2 separate regions of the Homo sapiens genome follow, and region 1 is linked to region 2. The links come from fine-mapping of genetic effects on gene expression. A gene starts in region 2. The other region holds a variant in brackets. All regions are shown on one strand. Distances are from middle to middle. Region 1 has its middle 15 kb from the start of LAMC1-AS1. Region 2 holds the start of NPL (N-acetylneuraminate pyruvate lyase).

Region 1 (2,922 bases), 370 kb after region 2:
ACCCCGTCTCTACTAAAAATACAAACAAAATTAGCTGGGTGTGATGGTGCATGCCTGTAATCCCAGCTGCTCCGGAGGCTGAGGCAGGAGAATCGCTTGAACCCAGGAGGCAGGGGTTGCAGTGAGCCAAGATCATACCACTGCACTCCAGCCTGGACAACAAGAGCAAAAACTCCGTCTCAAAGAAAAAGAAAAAAAAGTTGGCCGGGCGTGGTGGCTCACGCCTCTAATCCCAGCACTTTGGGAGGCCAAGGCAGGTGGATCACGAGGTCAGGAGTTCCAGACCAGCCTGGCCAAGATGGTGAAACACTGTTTCTACTAAAAATACAAAAATTAACCGGGTGCAGTGGCAGGCACCTGTAATCCCAGCTACTCGGGAGGCTGAGGGAGGAGAATTGCTTGAACCCAGAGGTTGCAAGTTGCAGTGAGCAGAGATTGCGCCACTGCACTCTAGCCTAGGCGACAGAGTGAGACTCCATCTCAAACAAAAACAAAAACAAGTTAAAATTTATTTCAATTTACACGCACAAACACAGGCTGTATGTGGTGCCATTTACAGTCAAGAGAAGCATAAACAAACATAAAGATGCAGTATTAAATCATAACTGCATAAAATTTACCCCAGTACATACTGTACTACTGTAATAATTTTATTGCCACCTCCTGTTGCTCTTGCTGTGAGCACAAGTGTTGTGAGTGTCTGCTTAAAACACCCTATGACACTAATCATCTCCACATGAACTGTTCATCTCTTCAGTAAATTGTGTATCACAGAAAAAAGTGATCTCTTGCACTTCCCACATCTTTGTCATCATGTTTAGTGTAATACCATAAACCTTAAATAATGCCATTGGACCCATATGAACTGCCACTAATGATACTGGAAGTGCTCCCAAGAAGCAAAGAAAAGTCATGATGTTACAAGAGAAAGTTGAATTGCTTGACATGTACTGTAGATCGAAGTCTGCAGCTGTAGTTGCTACCATTTCAGATAGATGATTCATCTTATAAACAGATTATGTAAATTTATGGTATTCATAAATACAGTACAGTATTATAAATGTGCTTTTTCTTCCTTAGGATTTTCTTAATAATGTTTTATTTTTCTCTAGCGTACTCTATTGTAATCATAGAGGATATGTAACATACAAAATGTGTTAATTCACTGTTTATGTTATCATTCAGGATTTCAGTCAATAGTAGGCTATTAGTAGTTAAGTTTGGAGGGAGTCA[A/G]AAGTTAAATGCAAATTTTTGGCTGCATGGGGGTCAGCACCCCTAACTCCTGCATTGTTTAAGGGTCAGCCATATTTGCTTTTTTGGTATTGAGTTGTTTGAGTTCCTTGTAATTTCTGAATATTAACCCCTTGTCAGATGCATATTTTTCAAAGTTTTCCTCCCATTCTGTAGGTTGTCTCTTCAATCTGCTAATTATTTCCTTTTGCTGGGAGTATCTTTTTTTTTTTTTTTTTTTTTTTTTTTTTTTTTTTTTTTTTTTTTTTTTTGAGACAGAGTCTCGCTCTGTCGCCCAGGCTGGAGTGCAGTGGTGCGATCTCAGCTCACTGCAATCTCCGCCTGCTGGGAGTATCTTTAGACTGGCTCCTGTGATCCTCTGATACATCCCCGTCATTCTTTGAGTGTTGTTTTACTTTCGGTATATCAAGACATTTCAGGCTAATCTTGTACCTTCCTTGCCTTAGTCCTGGAATCAGCTGTTTCGACAAGAAGCAAACATAGGTTTCTTTAATTCTCAAAATGCCATTGACCAAGAGCAACAAAAATAACAAAAAATAGGTTGCTCAAATGGATGTAAAACTCTCAAAAGTGATGCTGAAATGTTAAGCAAATAGCTCATTAGACTAATTGGCTTTAGGGGACATGGCCTTTTCTTTCCCTATAGATGATTGCTTTTTAAAAATGCATTATCAACAAATACTTTTGGAACACCTATGGCTCTTGTAGCCTACCCTACTGGTACCTATGGGTTTTACACTGTGACAAAGACAATTTTTTTCTATTTCATGAAACAAGACAAGAAGGCAGCAAAAAATAAAACATGAAAAACAGTAGAGTAGTCACCCCCTTATCCACAAGGGATATGTTCCAAGACCCACAGTGGATGCCTGAAACCATAGATAGTACCAAACACTATTATATACTATATTTGCAATTTGCTGAGATGGCTACTTCGTGACAAAGGGGCAGGGTAGCATATACGATGTGGGTATACTATACGAGGGGATGATGCATGTACTGGGTGGGACGAAGCAGGATGGCACGAGATTTTATCACGCTACTCAGAACAACACACAACTTAAAATGAATTATTTACTTCTGGAATTTTCCATGTAATATTTTTGTAGCATGATTGTCTGCAAGTTAACTGAAACCACAGAAAGCAAGCCCATGGATAAGTGGAGACTACTGTATACCAAAAATAGAGGAAAATGTATTTTCATAAAATAGAAATACATGAGCATGTTAATTTAAAAATGCACAGGGAAATATATCTATATTTATGTCTATCTAATCAATGTGTATATAATGAATGTTCAAGACTGTTCATTATGAGAAGTCTTTCAAGGACAAATTGTATTTGTATGAAAGGGTATATTTTTAGCTGTGTTGGAGAGAATATAATCTAGAAAATGAGCTTGGGGACATTGATCCAGATATGAAAATGCATGGACAGAGATTCAGTGATATGCCACTGAGAAGTTGAGTTTTTCTGGTTTTCCTCTCATCCATTCCTCTCTGTGTATTGATGTCCTGGAGACCAAGCCCTGTGGTCTGTATTCCCAGAGAGAACTCATGCTCCCTATGCTCATTGTCCATGTTCTAGTTTTTGGCTGATCATGTTGGCCACTCTTGTAATGTGATGTTGTTCTCATAAAACCAGTGACGGCCAGGCACAGTGGCTCATGC
Region 2 (2,922 bases):
CCTACATCAGTCTGCAGGCTGCTCCTGTCTGCTCCAAATCCCTCCCCCAGTAAGTTTCTTGCACATCTAATCCCATCTTAGCATCTGCTTCTTGGTAGACACTAACAAATTATTATAAGGAATTACTTTGCACTACCATATTTATACAAAAAGTAGTTAGTTCATGCATTTAGAATATTGGTTTGTTGGTTGACAATGTTAAGCCTAATGACCTATACCTTTTGGGTACTGACATACTTAATTTTGCACTTATTAAACTGTGACTTTCCAAAAAAAAAAAAAACTTTCATTGTACCATTAGGATATAATATTCTTGTTAATATTACAAAAACCAAACCAAAACAAAAACCATGCTGCAGCCTTAGGAGAACTTGCTTCATGTAACTAAGGGTTTTTCTTTTTCTTTTCTTTTTGTATTTTTTTTTCCTGTAGGATAACATAGTGTTAAAAGCACAAGCTTCTGGACTACTTGAAATCAAACCACAGCTTAACCAGCTCTATGGCTTTTGGCAAATTACTTCAACTCTTTAAACCTGTTTCTGATCTGTAAAATGGAATGATCCTTGCTCATCTGTAATATATACATTTATAAAACAGGACCCACCAATGGGATTATTTTATGAATTAAATGTTAAAACAGCTAGAACGGTGCAGGCTGAGTAAGCACTGAACACAGTACTTATTAGCTATTATCTCTGGTGCTCTGTGCAACGAAAGAACTATTAGAATACATTTAAAAGCACTTTGCAAACTAGAAAGCCCTTTGAACAATTTAGTTTCTCTAAATGTAATAATAAGCATCAGCCATCGCCTTTTATGGAAAATTGAGGTGGAATCACATCAGCAAGAGAAAACTGAGGACTTGTCTCTGGCTCTGTTCCTGATTTATTCACACAGTACATGATCCTAGAATAAGACTCCTGATACTCCTGAAAGTAGAGGCGGTTGGGTTAAAAATAATTTTCCCTTTCAAAACTCTTTCAAATGTTCTCCAAAAGAAGCCAGGAAAGCTCCCGTATGAGTAGATAATTCACTTTAAAATTCGCTCATCTCTCTTTAACACGAGAGTCTGCAGGGCTGGTGCAGCGGCGTCAACCCGAAGAGACCTGAACGCCGATGGGCAGTTGGGATTCTCCGTACGCCTCGGAAACAGCAGCCCAAACCTCACAACGCAGAACCACGAGATAGTGGGGATTGCAGAGCCCTGCGCAAGAGAAGGAAAATTAAGACGCAGCGGAGCCCAGGAGGTGCCCGCACGCGGGAAGGACTGGCGTGCAGACGAGGCAGGGGGAGGTTTGCACTCGGCGTGGCGCGGGTGAGCCGCGTGCTCTCGGGCACCCGGCCGCCAGTTCGGATGCTTCCGATCCTCGGGGAGCCGGGGCGCTGCGCCGGAGTCACTTCAGCCCATGTTGTTCAGGTGACACCCGGGGAAGAGCAGACTCCAGTGTGCAAAACGTTTCGGGGTTTCCGGGCCAGCGGTTCCGGGCGCGCCTCGCGGGCGGCGGCGCAGAACTACAACCCCCAGGCTCCCTGGCGTGGCGGCACGTGGGCCCGAGCCGGGCGGCCGCGGATATAAAGCGCGGCGGCGGCTGCCGGGCGGAGCGGCTGCACGGACAAGAGCGGAGGCCTGGGTGAGCGCGGCCCGCGACGGCACGGGCTAGGACAGACGGACGCAGACGGCCCGACGACCTGGGCGTTCGGGCGGAGGGGCGCTGGGGCCTGACTCGCGGGTGGGTGAGACGTTGACGGACCCGGAGGAAAGAGGGAAGGCAGATACGCTGGGAAACGGATCTGGGGAAGGTGTGAATGCGAAAAGTGTAGGGACAGACGGGGGCAGAAGAACTTACTCCCCCGGATTGTTTGCAGACAGCATATCTGCCGGGTCTCCAAAGGTCCTTTCCTCAAAATAGAGTTAGCAATTGAGCAGAAGAGAGCTTAAAGTTAAACCTGATACATCCCCCCTTCACTTGAGGAGAAATTGGTGGTTTTCTGCTTTTTTAAAAATCCCTATTTGTATCTCCTCTTCTCCGAGTACCTGTCCCTCAAGATATTCTCTGCCCAGAGGTACATTCTGCCCTCACTTTCTGTCTCTTAAAAAAACAACTTTGCCATTTAAAAAAGAATTTGACTTAGGCAGCTTTAATTCTTTGCACTGAGTGTTCTTATCTGTGGATGGAGGTATAAGATTTCAAGAGTAATACCCCCTCCCAATGTTTCAGTAATAATCTAAATTCACATTAAGCCTTAGGCTGGAGAACATTTGAGCTATTCGCTTTAGCTACGAGCTCTGAAAACTTCAAAGCATAACATTCCCAAGTTTATCTAAAACTTGAATCTTAAAAATAATGATAATTATCTGTTATGCTTCAAAGCATAACATTCCCAAGTTTATTAAAAACTTGAATCTTAAAAATACTGATCATTCTCTGTTAAAGTCTTTTGTTGTTGTTGTTGTTGTTGTTGTTGTTGTTGTTGTTGTTGTTTTTGAGACGGAGTCTCGCTCTTGTCGCCCAGGCCGGACTGCAGTGGCGCTATCTCGGCTCACTGCAAGCTCCACCTCCCAGGTTCACGCCATTCTCCTGCCTCAGCCTCCCGAGTAGCTGGGACTACAGGCTCCCGCCACCACGCCCGGCTAATTTTGTATTTTTAGTAGAGACGGGGTTTGGCCATGTTGGCCAGGCTGGTCTCGAACTCCTGACCTCAGGTGATCCGCCCACCTCGGCCTCCCAAAGTGCTGGGATTACAGGCTTGAGCCACCGCGCCCGGCCAAAGTCGTTTTTATCCCATTTCTTCCTGTAGGCGTTTCAAAGTTTGCAAAGGCAGCAAACTTTTACGTAGTGTAGTTATCTGTGCAAAGAAATTTTCCAAGCTGCCATTGCCCCCAGATGGCAGACAGTCTAGGAGAGGAGCCAAAACCACCCT

Evidence for each region.
Region 1: its variant is fine-mapped to the expression of NPL in whole blood (TOPMed, PIP above 0.99).

Annotation. Positions count from the first base shown.
Region 1 is chr1:183,155,174-183,158,095 of GRCh38, forward strand. No RefSeq gene overlaps it. Among named protein-coding and RNA genes, the nearest start is that of LAMC1-AS1, 15 kb to the left of the region's middle. The variant A/G (reference allele first, on the strand shown) is at 1,234.
Region 2 is chr1:182,788,175-182,791,096 of GRCh38, forward strand. It overlaps NPL (N-acetylneuraminate pyruvate lyase), which reads left to right and starts at 1,599. Exons shown (of 13, transcript NM_030769.3): 1 at 1,599-1,631. RefSeq lists an enhancer at 1,252-1,752.